2 separate regions of the Homo sapiens genome follow, and region 2 is linked to region 1. Evidence: fine-mapped expression QTL. A gene starts in region 1. The other region holds a variant in brackets. All regions are shown on one strand. Distances are between the middles of the regions.

Region 1 (10,885 bases):
TTCAAGCGATTTTCCTGCCTCAGCCTCCCAAGTAGCTAGGATTATAGGTGCCTGCCACCACGCCCTGCTAATTTTGTATCTTTAGTAGAGACTGGGTATCAGCACGTTGGCCAGGCTGGTCTTGAACTCCTGACTTGAGGTCATCTGCCAGCCTCGGCCTCCAAAATGCTGGGATTACAGGCGTGAGCCATCGTGCCTGGCCATGACTTTTCAACAGATTTGAAGAAGTGGGGTCCTGAGAAAATCCTGGGTAACAACAGCATCAGAGGTAACAGTTTTTTGTTTGTTTGTTTGTGTTTTTTAGATGGAGTCTCCCTCTGTCACCCAGGCAGGCTGGAGTGCAGTGGCTCGATCTCAGTTTACCGCAACCTCCACCCACAGGATTCAAGCGATTCTCCTGCTTGGCCTCCCAAGTAGCTGGGTCTACAGGCGTGCATCACCATGCCAGGCTAATTTTTGTATTTTTAGTAGAAACAGGGTTTCACCATGTTGGCCAGGCTGGTCTCGAACCCCTGACCTCAGGTGATCCGCCTGCCTGGGCCTCCCAAAGTGCTGGGATTACAGGCCTGAGCCACCCCGCTCAACTGGGAGCAGCTTTTTTTTTTTTTTTTTTTGAGACGGAGTCTCGCTCTGTTGCCCAGGCTAGAGTGCAGTGGCACGATCTCGGCTCACTGCAAGCTCTGCCTCCCGGGTTCACGCCATTCTCCTGCCTCAGCCTCCCAAGTAGCTGGGACTACAGGCACCTGCCAACATGCCTGGCTAATTTTTTGTATTTTTAGTAGAGAGGGGGTTTCACTGTATTAGCCAGGATGGTCTCGATGTCCTGACCTCGTGATCCGCCCGTCTCGGCCTCCCAAAGTGCTGGGATTACAGGCGTGAGCCACTGCGCCCGGCCTTGGGAGCAGCTCTTAAATGGCAAAATTCATGTAGCCAGGTGAGCCTGTGAAAGAACAGCAGGAAGCCAGCCTGTCTGGAATGGAGTGAACCACAACAGGGCAGATGTCAAGGGAGACTGAGCAGGGGCCTTGGGGAGGAGTGTAGATTAAATTCCAAGGGAGATGAGTGACCCTTAGAGGGTATTAGGTGGGTACCAGCATTAATAGTGGATCTGTGGATTAAATGAGCATATTAGCCCTGTTCTGTAGGAGGAAATTGGGGCATAGAGTAGCAAAACTACTTTCCTGAACGCACACAATATTAAACTGCACCCCTGGGAACCCTGCCTTGCTGCTAATACCTGCCTTCTAGCCTAACTGCCACCCTCCCACCCCAGGGGCAGACAGGCAACCTTTCCAGCCTGGGGTGGGGCAGAGCTCACAGCAGGGACTCTGCACTCTGCACGTAGCTCAGGCTCTCATTCTTGGTTCTGCTCTTAAGACTGGGTCCCCACCCTCTTCCCCATAAGACTACACTGGGCTGGGTTCCTTTCAGCTCGAGGAAGCCGTCTTAGGAACTAGGAACTGGGCCCTACACAGGGGCCTCAGCCCCGAGCTTCACATAACTTATCTCCTACAAATTTTACCACGTGCATGGTGATCTGGGTTTGCAGTCCCATTTTACTGCTGAAGAGACCCAGAGACGATCACAGCTCTTAAACGGCATTTGAACCCAGGCTGGCTGGTGACAAAATGTGGGCTTTGCCTTGCATGGCCAGATTTCTGGATGTAGGGCATCCTGGGATTTGCAAGGGACAAACGGCATACCCTACCCCTCCGAAACCGCCTTGAGCGCAAGCAGGAAAAGAGCAGGCACTAAGCATGTGATAAGACCGCCACCGTGTGGCGAAGATGAGCAACCACAGGGTCAGTTTCCCAAGCCTGAGCCTGAAGAAGGAAGGGGGTTGCAGGGGAGGACGAAAGGACAGAGCACACCAACACAGACTCACACCTTTCCCTAATACTTTATTGGTTACCTCTAGGCCTGTGTGCGGCTGGGTGGGCTTGGGGGAGGGCGTCACTATTCAGCTTCTAGGTGGAGGCATGAGAAGGCCTTGGCCTAGCCCTCCAGGGTCCCATACTGTGGAGTTTGGAGGGGCAGGTCTGGCCTTTCCTGGGTCAGCATAGGGCACCCAGGTGGGGGCACAGGTGGACACCCAGCACAGGCACCTAGGCAGGGGCACAAGCTCACTATCCGTTAGCCAGCCTAATTGTGTTTGGAGAAATATTCCTTGCTGTCATCCACGTTGGGCTTAATCGTGTCACTGCCAGGCTTCCAGCCAGCGGGACAAACTGTGGGAAGACACAAGGATGCACATGAAGGCTACAGCCCCAGGTTCAAGGTGAAGCAAAGCAAGGGCCTGTGTTGCAGAAGAAAATGCTGGAAGCAAGTGGTCCAGGCCCAGGAATGTGGATATTAAGATAAACCCTCCAAGCCCAGTTCAGTATTTTTTCTTTTTTTTTTTTTTCAGACAGAGTCTTGCTCTGTTGCCCAGGCTGAAGTACAGTAGCATGATCTGAGCTCATGCAACCTCTCCCTCCTGGGTTCAAGCGATTCTCATGCCCCAGACTCCCTAGCTGGAATTACAGAGGTGCACCACCACGCCTGGCTAATTTTTGTATTTTTGGTAGAGACCATGTTAGTCACGCTTGTCTCGAACTCCTGACCTCAAGTCATCTGCCCGTCTTGGCCTCCCAAAGTGCTGGGATTACAGGTGTGAGCCACCATGCCTAGCCAAGTTCAGTATTTTCTCTTTTTCTTTTCTTCTTTTTTCTTTCTTTCTTTTTTTTTTTTTTTTTTTGAGACAGAGTCCTCCTCTGTTGCCCAGGCTGGAGTGCAATGGCGTGATCTCGGCTCATTGCAACCTCTGCCTCCCGCGTTCAAGTGATTCTCCTGCCTTAGCCTCCTGAGTAGCTGGGACTACAAGTGCCCGCCACCACACCCTGCTAATTTTTTGGTACTTTTAGCAGAGACAGGGTTTCACCATATTGGTCAGGCTGATCTCGAACTCCTGACTTCAGGTGATCCACCCACCTTGGCCTCCCAAAATGCTAGGATTACAGGCGTGAGCCACTACACCTGGCCAAGTTCAGTATTTTCTAGCTGGTGTTTTTCCTACTCTTAATTCTTCAATTTCTTTTTGCCACCCAGCTCTCCTTTTTCTTCTTTTTTTCTTTTCTTTTTTTTTAAGATGGAGTCTTGCTCTGTTGCCCAGGCTGGAGTGCAGTGGCACGATCTCTGCTCACTGCAAGCTCCGCCTCCCAGGTTCACGCCATTCTCCTACCTCAGCCGCCAGAGTAGCTGGGACTACAGGCGCCCGCCACCACGCCCGACTAATTTTTTTGTATTTTTAGTAGAGACAGGGTTTCACCGCGTTAGCTAGGATGGTCTCGATCTCCTGACCTCTTGATCCGCCCGCCTCAGCCTCCCAAAGTGGTGGGATTACAGGCATGAGCCACCGTGCCCGGCCTCTTTTTTTTTTTTATTTTTTGAGACGGAGTTTCGCTTCACTCGTTGCCCAGGCTGGAGTGCAATGGCACGATCTCAGCTCACTGCAACCTCCGCCTCTCAGCTTCAAACGATTCTCTTGCCTCAGCCTCCCAAGTAGCTGGGATTACAGGCATGCACCACCAGGCTGGGCTAATTTTGTATTTTTAGTAGAGACTGGGTTTCTCCATGTCGGTCAAGCTTGTCTCGAACTCCCGACCTCAGGTGATCCACCCACCTAGGCCTCCCAAAATGCTGGGATTACAGGTGTGAGCCACTGCATCTGGCCTCTTTTTTTTTTTTTTTTTTTTTAACCAATACCCCATCTCTTAAAAAAAAAAAAAAAGAGATGGGGTATTGCTATGTTGCCTAGGCTCGACTCAAATTCCTGGGCCTAAGCAATCTTCTGCCTCACTCTCCAGAGTAGGTGGAACTACAGGCATGAGACACAGCATCTACAGGCATGAGACACAGCATCTTCCTGTCTTTTTGGCTCCTTTAGTCCCATCTTTGTCCCTCTGCCCCACCCCTACAGGTTTTTTTGTTGTTGTTGTTTTTGAGATGGAGTCTCACACTGGCGCCCAGGCTGGAGTGCAGTGGTGTGATCTCGGCTTACTGCAACCTCCTCCCGGGTTCAAGGGAGTCTCCTGCCTCAGCCTCCCAAGTAGCTGGGATTACAGGCACCTGCCACCGCACCCAGCTAATTTTTTTGTATTTTTAGCAGAGACGCGGTTTCACTATGTTGGCCAGGCTGGTCTCAAACTCCTGACCTCATGATCTGCCCGCCTCGGCCTCCCAAAGTGCTGGGATTACAGGCGTGAGCCACCGCGCTCGGCCTGTTTGTTTGTTTTTTTGAGACAGGGTCTTGCTGTGTCACCCAGGCTGGAGTGCAGTGGTGCGATCACAGCTTACTGCAGCCTTGACCTCCCAGGCTCAAGTGATCCTCCAGCCTCAGCCTCTTGAGTAGCTGGGACTATAGGCATGCTTCACAAACCAAGCTAATTTTTTTTTTTTTTGAGACTGAGTTTTGCTCTGTTGCCCAAGCTGGAGTACAACGGTGCGATCTCAGCTCACTGCAACCTCTGCCTCCTGGGTTCAAGCGAACTCCTGCCTCAGTCTCTCAAGTAGCTGGGATTACAAGTGTGCACCACCACGGCCAGCTAATTTTTTGTGTTCTTCGTAGAGACGGGGTTTCACCATGTTGGTCAGGCTGGTCTCGAACTCCTGACCTCAGGTGATCCACCTGCCACAGCTTCCCAAAGTGCTGGCAATACAACCGTGAGCCACTGAGCCCGGCCCCTTTGTCCACCTTGGTTGAATGTCAGGCGTTATTTGTCTCCTACCACATTAGAAACATCCTGCAGACAAAGCCCTGAGCTGAATCTTCTTTGGGGCCCTAACACCCATCTGGACAGGTAAGAGGACAGGCAGTGAATGTTTGCATGAGTGACGGAGGCGCTCAGTATGTACCCATGTGTCATGTGTGTATCTGCTCACCTTCCCCATGCTCGTCTGTGTACTGGAAGGCCTGGACCAGCCGCAGAGCCTCATCCACGGAGCGTCCCACAGGCAAATCATTAACAGTGATCTGGCGAAGGACACCCTTGCCATCGATGATAAAGAGGCCCCTGAAGACATCAGGGTTCCCAGTGAGGAGCTGATAGCTCCCACTGCCAGAGACAAGGAAGGGACTACCAACCACCCGCTGCTAGCCACAGGGCTGGGGGCAGAGAAGACATTGTACAGGAGTGGTCCCAGCATCACAGGAATGGGGGGCAGGGCGCTCCCTGAGCCGGGCTGAGGGTCCCACAGTACCTGTAGGCAATGCCCTCATCTGTTTTCAGCACGCCGTAATCCTCAGACAAGCGTCTGGTCACGTCAGCAAGCAGGGGGATGTTCAGGGGGCCCAAGCCTCCCTCTTTCCGGGGGGTGTTGATCCTGGGAGTAGGGGAGACAGAGTTGGGGCCTCAGGATGCCTGGCACAGCAGGGTCCTCACCCTGTGGGCCCAATGTGATAAGCACTGGAGGCCGGAGATAAGGGGCTTTAGAGTAGGCCGCTGGGAGCCTCACCCACCCCACCCTGGGTTGGGTGCAAGGACTGTATCCCCATGGCTGGGAAGACTGAGTTTGAGAGGCACAGCTCCAGCTAAGTGGCTTCACATGTACTTGTAACTTGCAGCATCACCCAGCAGAGAGCCTGTGTTAAGAGTCCCCATCCTCCTCTAGCTGTGTCATGGGGTACAGCCCTTCACTTCGGTGAACTGGAGTTTCCATCTTCATGAAATAGGGCAGCACAGCCTCCCTCCTGGGAACTAAGTACATAGAGTAGATAGAGTTGCATCTGAGTTGCATCTGCAACTCTATATACCAGGCAACTAGTTGTCAAATGCTAATTACTGTCATCATCCTTAAAGACTTGGGCGGCAATGTTTCCATTATTTTCACGATGGGGAAACGCAGGTTCCAGAGGTTGAGCAATGGCCACGAAGCCACACTGCTAGGACCTGAGGGTGTGAGCTTAGCTGCAACCTCCCTCTTTGGCCCCTGCTCATACCAAGCCAGGTGGGTGAACTGAGAGTCCACCGAGACGCCCAGCACTTCACAGCCCAGCTTGCGGAAGTCCTCTGCACGGTTGCTGAACGCGATGATCTCGGTGGGGCACACAAAAGTGAAGTCCAGAGGGTAGAAAAAGAGGACCACGTACTTCCCTGGGGAGGAGGGACACAGAGGAGTTAGGGCCCAGCTTCTCTCATGCACGGCCCCGCTTCTACCTGGGCCCCCTCCGGGCGGCGCTCACCTTTGTAGTCCGACAGCTTCACCTCTTTGAAGGCGCCATCAACCACCGCTGTGGCCTTGAAGTCAGGGGCTGGCTTTCCGATGCGCGCGTTACCGGAGGCCATGACTGAAAGCTGAGACCCCCGCCCGGTCAGTGCGCCCGGGAAGACACTTTGTCCTCCCAACCCAAGGTCGCGCTGCGTGCTGGGCCCTATGACTGAGTCAGCACGGCGGAGGCGACAGCACTAACCCTCACCCTCCCGGGTACCCGGTCTACGAGGCCCGGAGGCTGCCGGAGACCCGCTCTCCTGACCAGAGCACGAGTGACCCAGCCACTGCCACCAGCACCCCACGAGCGAGTCGGCCGGAGGGCGGTGTCGCAAGCCCCCAGCCCAGAAGGAGACAGTGAGGCCCGCACGAGCAGGGGGCGGGAAGTCGGGCGATCAGGCCTGCGCTGCAAGGCTGTGGCCTCGGTTTCCCCCGCAAGGACAAAGGAGGCCACTATAGCGGATGGAAAGCAAAGGCGGCCAGCACTAAAGTCAGGATCGGGCCAAAGCAGCCTGAAGGGGGTCCTCCCGCCAGGTGCACTCCGGGTGTTCATACCTGCGTGGGCAAAGGCTAGACGCACGGACGATCACACGCGTGGACCCGCGTTCTCAGCGCCAAGTGAGCCCTGGGCCGCGAAGCCTTTTATGCCCGGCCCGAACCAAGACGTGCACGGCGCGGGGGAGGGAGCGGACGAGCGGAGCGGTCGGGTCCACTGCGCCCGCAGGTGCGGGGGAGCGTGCGGCCGGGTCCATGCGCCTGCGGGCGGCGGGGGGAGACGCGTTGCCTTCGGCCGGGACCACTGCACCTGCCCGCGTGGGTAATGCGCCCGCCGCAGACTCCGCGCACGACTCCGCCTGGGAGCGCGTTGGGGGCCGTTGGAGTCCAGCATGGCGCGGACCCCGGGGGCGCTGCTGCTGGCGCCTCTGCTACTCCTGCAGCTGGCGACCCCTGCCCTGGTCTACCAGGACTATCAGTACTTAGGGCAGCAGGGCGAAGGTGACAGCTGGGAGCAGCTGAGGCTGCAGCATCTAAAGGGTAACCTCAGGCGGCGGGGATGACGATGCCCAAAGGCTCCCCGTTGCCCTACTTCTCCTGCTGGCTGCAAAGGGACCTTCCTCGGCGGGCTGCAAATCTCCACCCAGCTCCGCACTGGAGGCGTCCCCTTGGGCTGGTTACTTTTCTCTAAGGCTCGGTTTACTCTTGGATATATTGAAATAGATACTGCTTTAAAGCAGCTCCCAGGGGAAGAGAGGGTGTGGGCAGGACACTGAAGCTGTCACTCGGGGATAGGTGCCAGGAAGGGCAGAGACAGAGAAAGAAGGGGGCGGGCAAGCTTGGGAAATCAGAGAGGGTCCGATTGCAGAAGACCCGTGACCAGTGCAGCGAGAACGACAAGCGAAAGTCCCATATGGAAAGATTTGGGGAAAGAATGTCCAAGGAAGAGGGAATAGCAAATGCCAAGGTGAAAAGTCCTGAAGGAGAAATGGAAAGAGGTCGGTGAGGTGTGGCAGAGACATGGGTGTGGGAGGGTAGGAGGTGTCAGACCTTGGTGAGCGGTGAGTTGGGATAAGATCGGAGTTGGGATAAGATCTGTCTCATAGGGGAAAGGGGCAGATTCAGTAAAGAGCCCTTTAAAGTGATCACAGTGGCCGGCGCGGTAGCTCACGCCTATAATCCTAGCACTTTGGGAGGCTGAGGTGGGAGGATCCCTTGGTCTCGGAGACCAGACCAGCCTGGCCCACACAGCAAGACTCCATCTCTACAAAAAATATTTTAAAATTAGCCTGACTTGATGGCCCAGCACTTTGGGAGGCCGAGGCGGGAGGACTGCTTGAGCCCAGGAATTCAAGACCAGCCTGGGCAACATGGAGAGACCCCCTACTCTACAAAAATAAATAAATAAATAAAAATAAAAAATAAATTAGCCTGCCATGGTGGCATGCGCCTGTAGTCCCAGCTACTCAAGAGGCTGATACAGGAGGACCATTTGTGCCAAGGAGTTTGAAGCTGCAGTGAGCCATGATTATGCCCTTGCATTCCAACCTGGGTAACAGAGCAAGATCTTGTCTCAAAATAAATAAATTAAATAAATAAACAAACTGATCATAATAAATTGGTTTGTATATGCTAGCACAGCACCGGGAGATTTACTTACCTTCATTATGTCAATTATGCCATTTATCACTTGACAACCCTGCTGTCAGGTGGCATTGTGCCTTCTAGGTAGGGCCATGGTCACACCCCTGAAGACAGAAGTCAGCTTCAAATGGCGGGCACCAAGGATGTTGTAGGACACTCACAACTGGGCAGGCTGGCACAGCCTGGAAGTGTCAGGTTGTAGTTCCTCTGGCCCACTTACCCCGTATATGAGCTTGGAAGGTTGGCTTGCTGTCTCTGGGTCTTGGTTTCCCCACCTGAGACTCGTGGAAATATTAAATGAGGCCAGGCATGGTGGCTGGCTCACACCTGTAATCCCAGCACTTTGGGAGGCTGAGATGGGAGTATCACTTGAGCCCAGGAGTTCCAGACCAGCCTGGGCAACATGGTGAAACACCGTCTCTGCAAAAAATACAAAAAATTAGCCAGGCACAGTGGCATGTGCCTGTAGTCCCAGCTACTTGGTAGGCCGAGGTAGGAGGATTGCTTGAGCCCAGGAGGTTGAGGCTGCAGTGAGCTGTGACTGCGCCACTGCACTCCAGCCTGGGCGACAGAGCGAGACCCTGTCTCAAAAAAAAAAAAAAAAAAAAAAAAAAAGCTTAAATGAGATAATCTGTGGCAGGGTGTCTGGCATAGAAGCAGAGTCTAGCGAATATGTGCTTCTCTTATTCGTTAGTATCTTTATCTTTCTCCCTCTCTGGGGGAGGGGATTGGGAGTAGGCCCCCTCCACGTAGGTCTTCACCTCTGCCCTCCTTCTCTAGAAGTCGAGGACTCAATCCTTGGCCCGTGGGGAAAGTGGCGGTGTCTCTGCGACCTGGGCAAGCAGGAGCGCAGCCGCGAGGTAGTGGGCACAGCGCCGGGCCCGGTTTTCATGGACCCGGAGAAGCTGATCCAGTTACGGCCCTGCCGGCAACGGGATTGTCCATCCTGCAAGCCCTTCGACTGCGACTGGAGGCTCTGAGCCCGGGTGAGAGAGCAGGGCCGGGGCAAGTTGCGGGGCCCAGGGTGGGCGCGGAGGGAGGATGTGCGGTGCGGGGCGGGTATGAAGCGAGTTTGAGGAAGGGAGAACTGGGGCTCCAAGTCTTGAGTGACTTGAGGCTGATTTGGTTAGGGGGAAGCTGAGTCAGGAGCCGTGAGCCCCGCTGATATCTAGGGAGAAAAGGAGAAAAGTGGAGGGGGCGCCGGGCGCCGGGGCTCACGCCTGTAATTCCAGCATTTTGGGAGGCCGAGGCAGGCGGATCTCTTGAGTCCTGGAGTTCAAGATTAGTCTGGGCAATATCGTTGAGATCACCTCTCCATAAAAATTTTTAAAATTAGGCCGGGCGCGGTGGCTCACGCCCGCAATCCCAGCACTTTGGGAGGCCAAGGCAGGCGGATCACAAGGTCAGGAGATCGAGACCATCCTGGCTAAAACGGTGAAACCCCGTCTCTACTAAAAATATAAAAAATTAGCTGGGCGCGGTGGCGGGCGCCTGTAGTCCCAGCTACTCGGGAGGCTGAGGCAGGAGAATGGCATGAACCCGGGAGGCGGAGCCTGCAGTGAGCCGAGATCGCGCCACTGCACTCCAGCCTGGGCGACAGAGCGAGACTCTGTCTCAAAAAAAACCAACCAAACAAACAAACAAACAAAAACATTTAAGTTAGATGAGCGTGGCGGCACATGCCTGTGGTCCCAGCTACTCGGTACGATGGGGAGGAAGGATCGCTTGAGCCTGGGAGGCAAAGGTTACAATAAGCCGAGATCGCTACACTGCTATCCAGCCTGGGCAACAGAGTAACATCCTGTCTCAAAAAAAAAAAAAAAAAAAAAAAAAAAAAAAAAGTGGAGGGGGAGGCGAAGAGGAGTAAAAGGAGATAAAGAGACAATGAACTAGGACCCTGAGGAAGGGGCATGAGCCTGGTAAGGGGCGGGAACCCACAGGCAGAGGACATGAGCCCCAGTGAGCCCAGGGAATAGAAGTGGTGGATGCCAGGCACTGTGGCTGGCTCAGGCTTGTAATCCCAACACTTTGGGAGGCTGAGGCGACCGGATCGCTTGAGCCCAGGAGTTTGAAGCCAGCCTGGGCAACATAATGAGACCCCGTCTCTACAAAAAATACCAAAAATAGTCGGGCATGGTGGTGTGGTGTGCACCTGTAGTCCAGCTGCTTGGGAGACTGAGGTGGGAGGATCGCGTCAGCCCAGGAGGTGGAGGTTGCAGTGAGCCAAGATCGCGCCACTGCACTCCAGCCTGGACAACAGAGAGAGACCCTGTCTAAAAAAAAAAGAAGGCCGGGTGCGGTGGCTCACGCCTGCAATCCCAACACTTTGGGAGGCCGAGGCGGGCGGATCACAAGGTCAGGAAATCGAGACCAACCTGGCTAACACGGTGAAACCCCATCTCTACTAAAAAGTACAAAAAATTAGCCGGGTGTGGTGGCGGGCGCCTGTAGTCCCAGCTATTCGGGAGACTGAGGCAGGAGAATGGCGTGAACCCGGGAC
Region 2 (16,413 bases), 66 kb after region 1:
TACCATCAAGCTCATAAGCAACGGTGCCTACGGGTGAGCCACCCGGGGCTCTGGCGGGGGGAGGGTGGCGGAGGCCGGGTGTCTCGGAGGTGACGGCCGGTCCTCGCTCTCTCCCCCTGCAGCGCTGTCTACCTGGTGCGGCACCGCGACACGCGGCAGCGCTTTGCCATGAAAAAGATCAACAAGCAGAACTTGATCCTCCGCAACCAGATCCAGCAGGCCTTTGTGGAGCGCGATATCCTCACCTTCGCCGAGAACCCGTTTGTGGTCGGCATGTTCTGCTCCTTTGAGACTCGGCGCCACCTCTGCATGGTCATGGAATATGTGGAAGGTGTGGCTGCCTGCGGGGCTGCAGGGAAGATGGGGCCGTGCTCACTGGTCAGGGCTGCGGGGTGGCCTGCCTGAGCCGCAGTCTCCATATTGATTAGTCGGCCTGTATGTTTATCCATCTATTTATTTCTCCAGTCATTGATTTGTCCATCCATTCTACCTATATATTTATTCAGTCATCTATTGGTTTATTTGTTTTTCATTTCATTCAGCATAAAAACATTCAGTCTGACCCATTATCCATCCATCTATCCTTCTATCTACTGATGTGCTAATCCATCTGTTTTTCCATCCATACATCCATGAACCTGTTTTTATTTATTTATTTATTTATTCATTTATTCATTTATTTATTTTTTGAGACAGAGTCTTGCTCTGTCACCCAGGCTGCAGTGCAGTGGTGCAATCTCGGTTCACTGCAACCTCCGACTCCCAGGCTCAAGCGATTCTTATGCCTCAGCCTCCCGAGTAGCTGGGATTATGGGCCTGTGCCACCATTCATGGGTAATTTTTCTATTTTTAGCAGAGACAGGATTTCGCCATGTTTGCCAGGCTAGTCTTGAACTCCTGACCTTAAGTGATCTGCCTGCCTGGGCCTCCCAAAGTGCTGGGATTACAGGCATGAGCCACTGTGCCAGGCCTATTTTATTTTATTTATTTATTTTTGAGACAAGATCTCACTCTGTTGCTCAGGCTGGAATGTAGTGGTGCGATCACAGCTCACTGCAGCCTCAAATGCCTGGGCTCAATCAATTCTCCCACCTCAGCCTCCCAAATACCTGGGATTATAGGTGCGGACCACCACACTCGGCTAATTTTTGGGAGGCCAAGGTGGGGAGATCACAAGGTCAGGGGTTCAAGACCAGCCTGGCCAACATGGTGAAACCCTGACTCTACCAAAAATACAAAAATTAGCCAGATGGCACACTCCTATAATCCCAGCTACTCACGTGGCTGAAGTGGGAGGATTGTTTAAACACAGGAAGCAGAGGTTGCAGTAAGCCGAGATCGTGCTGCTGCACTCCAGGCTAGGCTGAGATCATGCCATTGCACTCCAGCCCTGGCAACTGAGCAAGACCCTGTCCCGCAAAAAAAAAAAAAAAAAAGTTTTTTGTTTTTTGTTTTTTTTTGTTCGTTTGTTTTGTTTTTTATGCAGTCTCCCTGTATTGCCCAAGTTAGTCTCCAACTCCTGGGCTCAAGCAACCGTCCTGCCTCAGCCTTCCAAAGTCCTGGGATTACAGGCACGAGCCACCGAGCCCATCCCATATACCTGTTTATTAATCCACCTTTCCATCCATCCCTCACATCCCGCAATTTGTCTTTGTGGTTGTCCATCTGTTTATCCATCCGTATGTCTGTTTACCATTATACACCTATTTTTCTTTTTTTTGGGGGGGACGGCGTCTTGCTCTGTCTCCCAGGCTGGAGTGCAGTGGCGCAATCTCAGCTCACTGCAAGCTCCACCTCCTAGGTTCACACCATTCTCCTGCCTCAGCCTCCTGAGTAGCTGGGATTACAGGTGCCCGCCACCATGCCCGACTAATTTTTTTTGTATTTTTAGTAGAGACGGGGTTTCACCGTGTTGGCCAGGATGGTCTCGATCTCTTGACCTCATGATCCGCCCACCTCGGCCTCCCAAAGTGCTGTGATTACAGGCGTGAACCACCACACCCGGCTTATACACCTATTTTTCCTTTTTCTTTCTTTCTTTTTTTTTTTTTTTTTGAGACAGAGTCTTGCTCTGTCACCAGGCTCGAATGCAGTGGCGCTATCTCGGCTCACTGTAACCTCCACCTTCCAGGTTCAAGTGATTCTCCTGCCTGAGCCTCCCGAGTAGCTGGGATTACAGGTGTGTGCCACCACACCTGGCTAATTTTTTGTATTTTTAGTAGAAATAGGGTTTTCACCATGTTGGCCAGGCTGGTCTCGAACTCCTGACCTCAGGTGATCCTCCCACCTCAGCCTCCCAAAGTGCTGGGATTACAGGCGTGAGCCATAGCTTGCGGCCCATATATTGTTTTTAATCCATCCGTGCATGTATTCACCCAAATGTTAATCCATCTATTGTCCAAAACCACACATGCTGTGGCTATTATGACACATACATGATCCCTGGGGCCTCAGCTGTGCCTCCTCCAAGCCTTCCAGTCAACCATCCAGTCACTCAACGAACACCTCCTCATCATCTCCCTCGTGTCACATGCTGTGCTAGGTGCCAGTGACACAGAGGAGACCCAGGCACAGACATCTCCCCGCCATGGAGATTCCATTCTGGTCTGTATAGACAGACAATAAACAAGCAGAGCAAGCCAAAGAGATAAGGACATTTATTTATTTATTTATTTATGGAGTCTCGCTCTTTCACCCAGGCTGGAGTGCCGTGGCGCAATCTTGGTGCACAGCAACCTCCATCTCCCAGGCTCAAGGATTCTCATGCCTCAGCCTCCTGAGTAGCTGGGACTAAAGGCGCGCCTCCACCATGCCCAGCTGATTTTTGTATTTTTAGTAGAGACAGGGGTTTCACCAGGTTGGCCAGGCTGGTCTTGAACTCCTGACCTCAGGTGATCAGCCCACCTTGGCCTCCCAAAGTGCTGGGATTACAGGCATGAGCCACCATGCCCAGCCAGGGCATTTCATAGTGAGGACATGAGGTCCATGAGGCTGGAGGAGGTGATGGGGAGGCAGGCAGGGAGCTTCTCAGAGGCCTGGATTATGATGGAATAAGTGACCTGCTAGTACAAAGTCTCTTAGGTGACAATTTAGATTTGGAGGAGTGGCAAGCAGGCCCATGGAGCCGAAGGCAAGTGAGCAAGGGAGGGGAGATGAGGATGAAGGGGCGCTGATGAGGAGGGTATTCCAGAGACTGGAATGGCATTGGATTTCATTCTGAATGCAACAGAAGGTCACTGGAGCATTGTTGTTTTTTTCTTTTTCTTTTTCTCTCTTTCTTTCTTTCTTTCTTTCTTTCTTTCTTTCTTTTTTGAGATAGAGTCTCGTTCTGTTGCCCAGGCTGGAGTGCAGTGGCGCATCCTCGGCTCACTGCAACCTCCGCCTCCCGGGTTCAAGCGATTCTCCTGCCTCAACCTCCTGAGTAGCTGGGATTACAGGTGCCCGCCACCACGCCCACCTAATTTCTGTATTTTTAGTAGAGATGGGGTTTCATCATGTTGGTCAGGCTGGTCTCAAACTCCACACCTCATGATCTGTCTGCCTCGGCCTCCCAAAGTGCTGGGATTACAGGAGTGAGCCACCGTGCCTGCCTTTTTTTTTTTTTTTTTTTGAAATGGAGTCTCACTCACGCTGTCACCCAGGCTAGAGTGCAATGGGGTGATCTCGGATTACTGCAGCCTCCGTCTCCAAGGTTCAAGTGATTCTCCTGCCTCAGTCTCCCGAGTAGCTAGGATTACAGGCGTGTGCCACCACATCTGGCAAATTTTTGTACTTTTAGTAGAGACGGATTTTCACCATGTTGGCCAGGCTGGTCTCGAATTCCTAGCCTTAAATGATCCATCAGTCTCGGCCTCCCGAAGTATGGGGATTACAGGCGTGAATCACTGCGCCCAGCCTTGTTTTGTTTTATTTTTAGTGCATTGTCCAGGCTGGAGTGCAGTGGTGTGATCACAGCTTACTGCAGCCTTGAACTCCTGGGCTCAAGCAATCCTCCCACCTCAGCCTCCAAAAGTAGCTGAAACTACAGGCAGGCACCACCATGTCCAGCTAATGGAGGGTTTTAAGAAGATTTGATATGATCAGATTTATGTTTTAAGAAAATCCATTTGGAGGCCCATTATAGTAGCTTACGACTGTAATCCCAGCACTTACAGTGGGAGACCAAGGCAGGCAGAACACTTGTGGTCAAGAGTCCAAGATCAACCTACCCAGCATGGTGAAACCCTGTTGTTGTTGTTTTTTTCTTTTCCTTTTTTTTTTTTTTTTTGAGACAGAGTTTCGCTCTGGCTAAACTCGTTGCCCAGGCTAGAGTGCAATGACGTGATCTTGGCTCACCGCAACCTCCTCCTCCCGGGTTCAAGCGATTCTCCTGCCTCAGCTTCTTGAGTAGCTGGAATTATAGGTATGCACCACCACACCTGGCTATTTTTGTATTTTTAGTAGAGATGGGGTTTCTCCATGTCAGCCAGGCTGGTCTCGAACTCCCAACCTCAGGTGATGTGCCTGCCTCGGCTTCCCAAAGTGTTGGGATTACAGGCGTGAGCCACTGTGCCCGGCCAATGAAACCCTGTTTCTACTAAAATTACAAAAATTAGCCAGGAGTGGCGGTGCACGCCTATCATCCCAGCTACTCGGGAGGCTGAGGAACAAGAATCTCTTGAACCCGGGGGCGGTGAGTGGGCAGAGGTTGCAGTGAGCCGAGATGGAGCCACTGCACTCTAGCCTGGGTGACAGAGCCAGACTCTGACTCAAAAAAAAAAAAAAAAAAAAAAAGAGAAAAAGAAAAAAATTAAGAAAAGATAATCCATTTGGCTCTTGTGGAGAGAGCAGAATCAGGAGACTAGGAGGTAGATGACTGCTCTAGTCCAGGTTCATTGCAGAGGAGGAGGAGAGAAGGGGGCCAAATCAGTATCTCTATGGTGGGTCTGTGTGCACAATAGATGTGCTCAAATGCAGATTCCTGGGCCCCACCCTCAGAGAGTTTCTGAAACCAGCAAAATCTCGCAGAAAAGAGAACAGAAAAAAGAAAGAAATCATTAGCTTTCTTGGTCATTGGTGATTGAAAAACCAATATTACCTTCAGGAATGGCTGGATGTAGGTGCTCAAACCATTCCATCAGGAAACTCTCCATCTCTTGGCTCTGTACTCCCACATGTGGGCTTCCTTCTAGACAAGCCCTCATGTAGCAAGGTTGCCATCTAGCAGATCTCAGCTTACATTCTATGAGCTTAGCAATTCTTACAGGAAAAGAGTGAAAATTCCAAGGGCTAACTCACTGGAGCAACTTGGGTTACATACTGCCCCGGTTGCTGCACATGGAAGGAAATCTAGCCTTTGTAGGATAAAAAGGAAATAGATATTGAGAAACTGAAATACCAATGCCAATTACAGTAAATCTGGCAGAGGGGCAGAGGCAGTGGCCAACACTTTGGGAAGCTGAGGCAGGAGGATCCTTTGAACCCAAGAGTTGGAGACCAGCTTGGGCAACACAATGAAACTCGTTTCTACAAAAAACTTTTTTTTTTTTTTTTTTGAGACGGAGTCTTGCTCTGTCACCCAGGCTGGACTGCAGTGGTGCGATCTTGGATCTCTGCAACCTCTGCCTCCCAGGTTCAAGCCATTCTTCTGCCTTAGCCTCCCGAGTAGCTGGGATTACAGCCGTCTGCCAACAAGCCAGGCTAACTTTAGTATTCTTTTTTCAGAGATGGGGTTTCACCATGTTGACCAGGCTGGTCTCGAACTCCTGACCTCAAGTGATCCACCCGCCTTGGCTTCCCAAAGTGCTGGGATTTCAGGCGTGAGCTACCATGCCCAGCCTTGAACAATTTTTTAAAAATCAGCTGGGCATGGTGGCTCACATCTGTAGTCCCAGCTACTCAGGAGGCTGAAGCAGGAGGATTGCTTGAGCTGGGAGGTTGAGGATGCAGTGAGCTGTGATCTTGCCACCGCACTCTAGACTGGGCAATGGAGTAAGACCCTGTCTCAAAAAAAAAAAAAAAAAATCTAGTGAAGACCAAGAATCTGCATCTAAGGCTTCCAGCTCCAAGGTTCAGACACCAGGAGATAGAGGGCTGTGCTTCCAGATGCAGTTGATAAGTGGGTAGCCTTTGTTCCCCAACTAAACCTCACCTCTACCAACAACTGCCTGCATGACCCATCCTTTCTTTGAGTCTCCATCCCTTTGTGTATAAGATGAGCTGATGACACCAACTTTGGAGGATGGCTAAGAGGACAAGAAGAACCCAGTAGAGGACCTGGAGGGAGGGAGGCCCCTCTCAGAGCCTCAGTTTCCCTTATCTATAAAACGGGTACAACATAACATGAGAAGTTGGTGCTATGGTGCATGTCCAGAGAGAGGAATGCCTCCCTTTTTATGCGGGCCCATTTCCTGGCCTGCAGGCGGCGACTGTGCCACCCTGCTGAAGAATATTGGAGCGCTGCCCGTAGAGATGGCCCGCATGTACTTTGCTGAGACGGTGCTAGCCCTGGAGTATTTGCACAACTATGGCATCGTGCACCGCGACCTCAAGCCTGACAAGTGAGCTTTGATCTTTCCCATCACTCCCTCTGTCCCTCGGGAGGCCAGGAGGCAGAATGGACGGGCCTCATCCCTGAGATCCCCACCTGTGCCTACAGCCTCCTTATCACCTCCATGGGTCACATCAAGCTCACAGATTTCGGCCTCTCCAAGATGGGGCTCATGAGCCTCACCACCAACTTATATGAAGGCCACATCGAGAAGGACGCCCGAGAGTTCCTGGACAAACAGGTGTGTGTGCGGGCATGGGGGTCGCTGAGGGTGGAGTGACCCTGCAGGACCTCGGGAACCCAGGGCCTGGTGGGGGGCACAGCTCTCCCTTGAGGGCCCTCCTCTGGCTGGGGCGTGGGCTGACAGCCTGCCCCCAGGTGTGTGGGACCCCAGAGTACATCGCGCCCGAGGTCATCCTGCGTCAAGGCTACGGCAAGCCAGTGGACTGGTGGGCTATGGGGATCATCCTCTACGAGTTCCTGGTGGGCTGTGTGCCCTTCTTCGGAGACACACCAGAGGAGCTATTTGGACAGGTCATCAGTGGTACGTGGCTTGGCAGTGTACAGGGGCAGAGTGTGGTGTGCACGGAGAGATGGACAGGCTCAGGGTTCCAGGGATTTCAAAAGCGACCCCCCAGAGGATCGCTTGCACTCAGGAGGTCAAGGCTGCAGTGAGCCATGATCGTGCCACTGCACTCCAGCTGGGTGACACAGTGAGATCCTGTGTCCAAACAACAACAACAACAAAAACCGCCCCTAAGTTCCGTTTTGTTTTGCAGATGACATCCTGTGGCCCGAGGGGGATGAGGCCCTACCTACGGAGGCCCAACTCCTCATATCCAGCCTCCTGCAGACCAACCCTCTGGTCAGGCTTGGGGCAGGTAAGTCCGCCATGCAGAGGAGCTGAGGGCCCACTGATAGAGAGCAGGCCTCCAAAACCCCAGGCCCAGCCTGTGCTGTGGCCCCGGGGCGGAAGACATGGGGGGCGGGGCTGGGCTGCTGGGTTGGCCATCAGCTGTGGCTGGAATCCCTTCCGTCCCAGGCGGCGCTTTTGAGGTGAAGCAGCACAGTTTCTTTCGAGACCTGGACTGGACAGGGCTGCTGAGGCAGAAGGCCGAGTTCATCCCCCACCTAGAGTCGGAAGATGACACTAGCTACTTTGACAGTGAGCTGGGACACCAGGCACGACCTGGGTCGAGGGGTGGGATCCGGGAAGAGGGACCCTGGGGTAAGTAAAGCCTGGGATAGGGCCTGGCTAAGTACCAAGATGTGATGCCTAGGTGCGAAGGTGGTATTTTGGTGGGGGCGGGGCCAAGTGGGGCGGGGCTGACATACAGGCGGGGCTCAGGCTGAAATGTAGGTAAGAACCTGAGATTGGGCTAGGTGTGGGGCCTGGCCTGGGTGAGTTGTGAGTGTGGGCCTGGAACTGAACTAGAGAGAGGTACTAGCGCTCAGAATGGCCTGGGGTGATGCCAGGGTGCAGAGCACTGTAGGTGGAGCGTGGCCTCTTTGGAGGCGGGGCTAGACGGTGCCACTGAGAATGGGGCAAGGACCTTGCCTGGGAGCGGAGCCTAAATTAAATACACTAATGAGGCAGGGGCGTGGCCTGACCTGAAGACTTGTAAACCCGTCTTGAACCAGGACTGGGCTCCTGTGGGGATGTGATATGAGGAGGAACCCCGTACCCTCAGTCACAGCCCATACCCGCTCCCCAGCCCGCTCAGACAGGTATCACCACGTGAACTCCTATGACGAGGATGACACGACGGAGGAGGAGCCCGTGGAAATCCGCCAGTTCTCTTCCTGCTCTCCGCGCTTCAGCAAGGTGGGCCAAGTCTGGGTGTGGGACAGGGCGAGACCCCAGGAGGGATGGGGCTTGGAGAGACAGTGAGAAACAGGTTCCCTGGTGCCCAAGGTCTCAGGAGCGGGAAGTTATTGATGGGGCGGGAGTCTGGAAGGTGGTAAGGCCACGCAAGAGGCAGGTTCGGGAGTCTATGGGACGGGCCTTTGGCACTGAGTGGAATCTAACAGGAATCAGGACAGTTGTGCAGATTGAGGCCATGGTGGGGCGGGGCTAGGTGTGGGTGGGGCGGGGTCAGGACGTGGGAATGAGGCCAGCAGCGAAGGCGGAGTAAAGCCCAGCGAAGTCTTGCTTTTATTTATTTATTTTTATTTTTTCTAATAACGGGCAGAGAAGCCATAGGCCTTGCTTTGAGAAGCAACTTGTAGAGGCGTGCAGGGCCTAGCCTGGGCTAAGGAGACATAAATTAAGGGGGTTGCTGGGAAGATGGGGCTGTGTAGAGAGCAGATTGGTCAGGGCATCGTCGGGGCAGAGCCTAGAATAAAACGCAGTGCCTAACTTTGTGGTGTGGGGCCTGAACTGAAGAATTGTAGGTTGGGGGATCATGCACAATTGGGCGGAGCCAGGCCTCGGAGGGTGGAGTGCGTTTTGCGGGGGATCCACTGCCAGGAAGCTGATTAGCTCCGGAGTGAAAGTGGAACCCGGGCTGGACTTGCCTCCCACCACCACCTACAGGTGTATAGCAGCATGGAGCAGCTGTCGCAGCACGAGCCCAAGACCCCAGTAGCAGCTGCAGGGAGCAGCAAGCGGGAGCCGAGCACCAAGGGCCCCGAGGAGAAGGTGGCCGGCAAGCGGGAGGGGCTGGGCGGCCTGACCCTGCGTGAGAAGACCTGGAGAGGGGGCTCTCCGGAGATGTGAGCAGGGGAATGGCGGAGTTTGGGGGCGGGGTCGAAGGGGGCGTGTCTTCCATAACCACGCCCCCTCCATGCAGCAAGCGATTCTCCGCGTCCGAGGCCAGTTTCCTGGAGGGAGAGGCCAGTCCCCCTTTGGGCGCCCGCCGCCGTTTCTCGGCGCTGCTGGAGCCCAGCCGCTTCAGCGCCCCCCAAGAGGACGAGGATGAGGCCCGGCTGCGCAGGCCTCCCCGGCCCAGCTCCGACCCCGCGGGATCCCTGGATGCACGGGCCCCCAAAGAGGAGACTCAAGGGGAAGGCACCTCCAGCGCCGGGGACTCCGAGGCCAGTGAGTGCCCTATCGTGCTGCCTTCCCCAATCTTCCCCAATGTCCTACTGGTCATATAGTGAGCATCCCACGAGCCTGGTGCTGTTTATGAAAGATCTCAGGTCCTATTCACATTGCAATTTGGGATTTTTTTTTTTTTTTTTTTTTTTGAGACAGAGTCTCACTCCATCACCCAGGATGGAGTGCAGTGGCGTGATCTCGGCTCACTGCAACCTCCACCTCCCAAGTTCAAGTGGTTCTCGCACCTCAGCCTCCCGAGTAGCTGGGATTACAGGCGCGCGCCACTACCCCCGGCTAATTTTTGTATTTTTAGTAGAGACAGGGTTTCTTCATGTTGGCAAGGCTGGTCTCGAACTCCTGACCTCAAGTGATCTGCCTTCCTTGGCCTACCAAAGTGCTGGGGTTACAGTCGTGAGCCACCACACCCAGCCCAATTTGGGATTCTTAACATTAGAAACACCCCAATACCATGGTCAGTCAGTGATACAGACCGATACAGACTATGTCTCTATATGAGGAGCAGTGAGGCATGCAGGTTACCTGCTCAGATGAAACTCACCATCCATCAAGGGTAAAAAGTGGAAAGAGCATTCCAGGCAGGGAAACAGTATGTGGGAAATCCCTGGCCTTGGACTAATTCCTAACACACTTGCTTTCTGTTGCAGCTGACCGTCCACGCCCAGGTGACCTCTGCCCACCCTCGAAGGATGGGGATGCATCAGGCCCAAGGGCTACCAATGACTTGGTTCTGCGCCGGGCGCGGCACCAGCAGATGTCAGGGGATGTGGCAGTAGAGAAGAGGCCTTCTCGAACTGGGGGCAAAGTCATCAAATCAGCCTCAGCCACTGCCTTATCTGTCATGATTCCTGCAGGTAATGCTGGGCCCCACCTGGCAGGGGAGGGGCTGCCCCCCATTTGAGGCAGGACAGACCAATGAAAATGCTGCATTTTCCCTGTCCACCGTGATTGGCTCCAGGCTGGACCAATGAGAGGCTGCTCTGCCACTGCCTTGGGAGGAGGGAGGAGCAGATACAGGGAGATGTCTATCTTCTTGGTTCTGATTTCTGACCATGGTTGTGTGTCTGTAGTGGACCCACATGGAAGTTCACCCCTTGCTAGTCCCATGTCTCCACGATCTCTGTCCTCCAACCCATCCTCACGGGACTCCTCACCCAGCCGGGACTACTCACCAGCTGTCAGTGGGCTCCGCTCCCCCATCACCATCCAGCGCTCGGGCAAGAAGTATGGCTTCACACTGCGTGCCATCCGTGTCTACATGGGTGACACGGATGTCTATAGTGTCCACCACATTGTCTGGGTGAGTACTCATGGGTGGAGTCTCCATCACAGAGTGGAGGGTGGTGGGGAAAAGGCCCCTCCAGCTCAAACCAGTTAGCCTGGGTGAGACACCTCTGTGACCCTCTATGCCTCTTCCCTCTCTAAACCTGTTTCTTTTTTCTTTTACTTTTTTATTTTAGGCGGAGACTCACTGTGTCGCCAGGCCGGAGTGCAGTGGCAGGATCTCGGCTCACTGCAACCTCTGCCTCCTGAGTTCAAGCCATTCTCCTGCCTCAACCTTCTGAGTAGCTGGGACTACAGACAGGCGCGCGCCACCACGCCCAGCTAATTTTTGTATTTTTAGTAGAGACGGGGTTTCACCATGTTGGCTAGGATGGTCTCAATCTCTTGACCTCGTGATTCACCCACCTCGGCCTCTCAAACTGCTGGGATTACAGGCGTGAGCCACGGTGCCTGGCCGAGACTGTTTCTTCATCTGCAAAATGGGGAGAATAGGCCAGGCGCAGTGGCTCAGGCCTGTAATCCCAGCACTTTGGGAGGCTGAGGTGGGCAGATCACTGGAGGTCAGGAGTTTGAGACTAGCCTGGCCAATATGGTGAAACCCTGTCTCTATTAAAAATACAAAAATTGGGCCGAGCGCGGTGGCTGTAATCCCGGCACTTTGGGAGGCCGAGGAGGGTGGATCATGAGGTCAGGAGATCGAGACCATCCTGGCTAACATGGTGAAACCCCCTCTCTACTAAAAATACAAAAAATTAGCTGGGCATGGTGGTGGGCGCCTGTAGTCCCAGCTACTTGGGAGGCTGAGGCAGGAGAATCGCTTGAACCCGGGAGGCGGAGCTTGCAGTGAGCCGAGATTGCGCCACTGCACTTTAGCCTGGGCGACAGAGCAAGACACCATCTCAAAAAAAAAAAAAAAAAAAAAAAAAATGGCCAGGCGCGGTGGCTCACGCCTGTAATCCCGGCACTTTGGGAGGCCGAGGTGGGTGGATCACGAGGTTAGGAGTTTGAGATCAGCCTGACCAACATGGTGAAACCCCATCTCTACTAAAAATACAAAAAAAATTAGCCAGGCGTGGTGGCAGATGCCTGTAATCCCAGCTACTCAGGAGGCTGAGACAGGATAATCGCGTGAACCCGGGAGGCGGAGCTTGCAGTGAGCCGACATCGCGCCACTGCACTCCAGCCTGGGTGACAGAGCGAGAGACTCCGTCTCAAAAAAAAAAAAAAAAAAAATTAGCCGGAGGTAGTGGCGCATGCCTATAATCCCAGCTACTTGGGAGGCTGAGGGAGGAGAATCGCTTGAACCTGGGAGGCGGGTGTTGTTGCAGTGAGCCAGGATTGCGCCACAGCACTCCAGCCTGGGTGACAGAGTGAGACTCCGTC[C/CA]AAAAAAAAAAAAAAAATGTGGGGGGAGGAATAATAACTATTTCACAAGGTGTTATGAGGATTCTAATGCATGCAGAGCTAAGTGTCCTGCATATAAGTTTAGGAGCTTTCCTTGTTACCAATCCCACTAACCCTGTCCCTATGGGGTGCTCTTTTCCCAGCATGTGGAGGAAGGAGGCCCAGCCCAGGAGGCAGGACTCTGTGCTGGGGACCTCATCACCCACGTGAATGGGGAGCCTGTGCATGGCATGGTGCATCCTGAGGTCGTGGAGCTGATCCTTAAGGTGAGTGCAGGGAAGGAGGCACCCTGGGCGGAGGGTGGGGGAGGCCTGAGCAGCCCCTAGCAGAGCATTTTCCCGCATTCTTCCCCCAGAGTGGCAACAAGGTAGCAGTGACCACAACGCCCTTCGAAAATACCTCTATCCGCATTGGTCCCGCAAGGCGCAGCAGCTACAAGGCTAAAATGGCTCGGAGGAACAAGCGACCCTCCGCCAAGGAGGGCCAGGAGAGGTGGGCACAGCCGTAAACAGCCTGGTCTTTGAGCAGTGGGTGGAACTTAGGCGGGAGGGGCACAGATGAGGATGGAGAAGGGAAGAGCACGGGAAAGGTGGCGGGAACAAATGACCAACAAGCAAAGGGAAGAGGACAATTAAGAGGGGCTGCGGGCTGGGCGCGGTGGCTCACGCCTGTAACCCCAGCACTTTGGGAGGCCGAGGCGGGCAGATCACGAGGTCAGGAGTTTGAGACCAGCCTGGCCAATATGGTGAAACCCCATCTCTACTAAAAATACAAAAATTAGCCTGGCATGGTGGCGCTCGCCTGCAGTCCCAGCTACTTAGGAAGCTGAGGCAGAAGAATCCCTTGAACCCGGGAGGTGGATGTTGCAGTGAGCCAAGATTGTGCCACTGCACTCCAACCTGGGCAACAGAGTGAGACTCCATCTCAAACAAACAAACAAACAAACAAACAAAAAAAGAGGGGCTGGGATGAGTCACACCTGTAATCACAGCACTTTGGGAGGCTGAGGCAGAAGGATCACTTGAGCCCAGGAGTCAAGATTAGGGGCAACATAGAGAGACCCCATCTCTACAAAAAACTTAAAAAACTAGTTGGGTTTGGTGGCACACACCTGTGGTCTCAGCTACTCGGAGGCTGAAGTGGGAGGATTGCTTGAGCCTGGGAGGTCGAGGCTGCAGTGAGCTATGATCTCACCACTGCAGTCCAGCTGTGACAACAGAGCTAGACTCTTTCAAAAAAAAAAAAAAAAAAAAAAAAGAGGGGCTGTAAAAGTGGAAGGAGCCAAGAATGGAAGCTGTGCCAAATTTCTAGGATCAGAGAAAAGCATTGTAGGAGGGTCTTGCACATATAGGCAGGCCCAGGAGATGTGAACTGGAAAGGGAGATGTCCAGAGACGGAGGGGGTCCAGGAGATGGTCCTATCCTGTTAGATGTGTTTAGACAGAACTGGGAAAGGCTAGAATAAGAAATGTCTATCTGGAATGAGCATGCCAGGCAAGGTTCAGCCAACTGAAATCCTATTTTCCCTTATAGATAGGAGGAGCTAGGTGGGAGGTGGGTGGGGCCAGAAGGGTATTCTGTTTGTTTGTTTGTTTTTAGTATTCTGTTTTGATCAGTGAGTTTGGCCCAGACAAGTACAGGGATTTGGGTGAGAGGAGCCAGACGGGGTTGAGATAAGTACATTTCTTCCCACTCTTATAGGTGGGTTGTAGTGGAAGAGGCGGGACTAGAGGCAGGTGGGACCAAGTTGGTTTTGTTTGGATGTGTTTCTAGCCTGGACTGGGAGTGGCCAAAAGGTTGGGCAGGACCTGAAGTGGGAGGAGGGAGGAGCCAAGCAGCACTGAGTTAAGGGAAGTTCTGTCTTGATAGGTGGGTTGTAGTGAAAGACGGAGGGACTAGAGGGGTGGGCAGGACTAGAAGAGGTTGTTTTTGGCCGGGCGAGGTGGTTCACACCTGTAATCCCAGCACTTTGGGAGGCCGAGGTGGGTGGATCACCTGAGGTCAGGAGTTTGAGACCAGCCTGACCAACATGGTGAAACCCCATCTCTACTAAAAATACAAAAATTAGCTGGGAGTGGTGGCTCACTCCTGTAGTCCCACCTACTCAGGAGGCTACTCACGAAGCTGAAGCACGGTAATCGCTTGAACCCGGGAGGTAGAGGTTGCAGTGAGCCGAGATCGTGCCATTGCACTCCAGCCTGGGCGACAAGAGCGAAACTTCGTCTCAAAAAAAAAAAAAAAAATGGTTTTGTTTGGATGAGTGTTTGTAGCCAGAATTGGGAGTGGCCTAAAGTTGGGCGGGGCCTGAAGTAGGAGGAGCTAAAGGAAGTTCTATCTTGATAGGTGGATTGTAGTGGAAGAGGGAGGAGCTAGAGAGGTGGGCGGGGCAGAACAGGTTGGTTTTGTTTGGATGCTTGTTTCTAGCTTGGACTAGGAGTGGCCAAAGGGGGTGGGTGGGGACTGAAGTGGGAGGAGCCAAGCAGCACTGAGCTAAAGGAAGTTCTTTATCTTGATAGGTGGGTTGTAGCTGGAGAGGGAAGGGCCAGAAGGGGTGGGTGGTTACCGTTGTGAGGCCGTGAAATGGGAGGAGCCCTGAGCTCTGGCGTCCAGGTCAAGGACGCTTGGCCCCCTCCCTGTCCCGCAGCAAGAAGCGCAGCTCCCTCTTCCGGAAGATCACGAAGCAGTCGAACCTGCTGCATACTAGCCGCTCGCTGTCGTCGCTGAACCGCTCGCTGTCATCCAGCGATAGTCTCCCGGGCTCGCCTACGCACGGGCTGCCGGCGCGCTCGCCCACGCACAGCTACCGCTCCACGCCTGACTCCGCCTACCTAGGTATTACCTCCTGCACCTGCGCGGGGACCGAGCAGCGCGGGGTGGCCTGGCTGGTGCTTGGGCTGTACTCACTCGCTTCACCTCCTGTCTCCCGCAGGCGCCTCATCCCAGAGCAGCTCCCCAGCCTCGAGCACGCCCAACTCGCCTGCGTCGTCGGCGTCGCACCACATTCGGCCCAGCACGCTGCACGGACTGTCGCCAAAGCTCCATCGCCAGTACCGCTCTGCGCGATGCAAGTCGGCCGGCAACATCCCTCTATCGCCGCTGGCACACACGCCGTCCCCCACGCAGGCGTCACCGCCGCCACTGCCGGGCCACACGGTGGGCAGCTCGCACACTACTCAGAGCTTCCCGGCCAAACTGCACTCATCGCCTCCCGTCGTGCGCCCGCGCCCCAAGAGTGCCGAGCCCCCTCGCTCGCCGCTCCTCAAGCGCGTGCAGTCGGCCGAGAAGCTGGGAGCCTCTTTGAGTGCGGACAAGAAGGGCGCGCTGCGCAAACACAGCCTCGAGGTGGGCCACCCGGATTTCCGCAAGGACTTCCATGGCGAGCTGGCGCTGCATAGCCTTGCCGAGTCCGACGGTGAGACGCCCCCAGTCGAGGGCCTTGGCGCGCCCCGGCAGGTCGCCGTCCGCCGCCTGGGCCGACAGGAGTCACCTTTGAGCCTGGGCGCGGACCCGTTGCTGCCCGAGGGTGCCTCCAGGCCACCAGTGTCGAGCAAGGAGAAGGAATCCCCGGGGGGCGCCGAGGCGTGCACCCCACCCCGCGCGACGACCCCCGGTGGCCGGACCCTGGAGCGGGACGTCGGCTGCACGCGGCATCAGAGCGTGCAGACGGAGGATGGCACTGGCGGGATGGCCAGGGCTGTGGCCAAGGCGGCGCTGAGCCCGGTGCAGGAACACGAGACAGGCCGGCGCAGCAGCTCTGGCGAGGCGGGCACACCCCTGGTACCCATTGTCGTAGAGCCTGCGCGGCCCGGGGCTAAGGCTGTGGTGCCTCAGCCTCTGGGCGCGGACTCCAAGGGGTTGCAGGAACCCGCACCCCTGGCGCCTTCCGTGCCCGAGGCCCCCCGGGGCCGGGAGCGCTGGGTGTTGGAGGTGGTGGAGGAGCGCACCACGCTGAGCGGTCCTCGCTCCAAGCCCGCCTCCCCAAAGCTCTCCCCGGAGCCCCAGACACCCTCCCTAGCCCCAGCGAAGTGCAGTGCACCCAGCAGTGCAGTGACCCCAGTCCCACCCGCATCCCTCTTGGGCTCAGGCACCAAGCCTCAAGTGGGGCTGACCTCCCGGTGCCCTGCTGAAGCTGTGCCCCCAGC

What was found. PIP is the estimated chance that this variant, and not a neighbour inherited with it, causes the effect.
Region 2: its variant is the best candidate, but not a certain one, in a credible set for the expression of PRDX2 in monocytes (Fairfax 2014, PIP 0.89).

The regions. Positions count from the first base shown.
Region 1 is chr19:12,794,939-12,805,823 of GRCh38, forward strand. PRDX2 (peroxiredoxin 2) reads right to left here and starts at 6,862. Exons shown (of 6, transcript NM_005809.6): 1 at 6,802-6,862; 2 at 6,221-6,332; 3 at 5,978-6,131; 4 at 5,239-5,361; 5 at 4,921-5,051; 6 at 1,885-2,228. The coding sequence starts at 6,323. The coding sequence ends at 2,143. THSD8 (thrombospondin type 1 domain containing 8) reads left to right here and starts at 7,131. Exons shown (of 2, transcript NM_001386800.1): 1 at 7,131-7,281; 2 at 9,166-9,451. The coding sequence starts at 7,134. The coding sequence ends at 9,365. RefSeq lists enhancers at 1,281-1,690, 5,940-6,139, 6,467-7,025, silencers at 6,625-6,810, 6,820-7,209 and a cis regulatory region at 6,673-7,222.
Region 2 is chr19:12,858,409-12,874,821 of GRCh38, forward strand. It overlaps MAST1 (microtubule associated serine/threonine kinase 1), which reads left to right. Exons shown (of 26, transcript NM_014975.3): 11 at 1-33; 12 at 123-331; 13 at 6,401-6,539; 14 at 6,638-6,770; 15 at 6,908-7,073; 16 at 7,309-7,410; 17 at 7,572-7,694; 18 at 8,245-8,354; 19 at 9,066-9,244; 20 at 9,322-9,569; 21 at 10,235-10,441; 22 at 10,658-10,887; 23 at 12,416-12,538; 24 at 12,628-12,764; 2 more. Among named protein-coding and RNA genes, the nearest start is that of MIR6794, 14 kb to the left of the region's middle. RefSeq lists enhancers at 6,369-7,157, 7,158-7,945, 9,167-9,461 and a cis regulatory region at 8,743-9,523. The variant C/CA (reference allele first, on the strand shown) is at 12,255.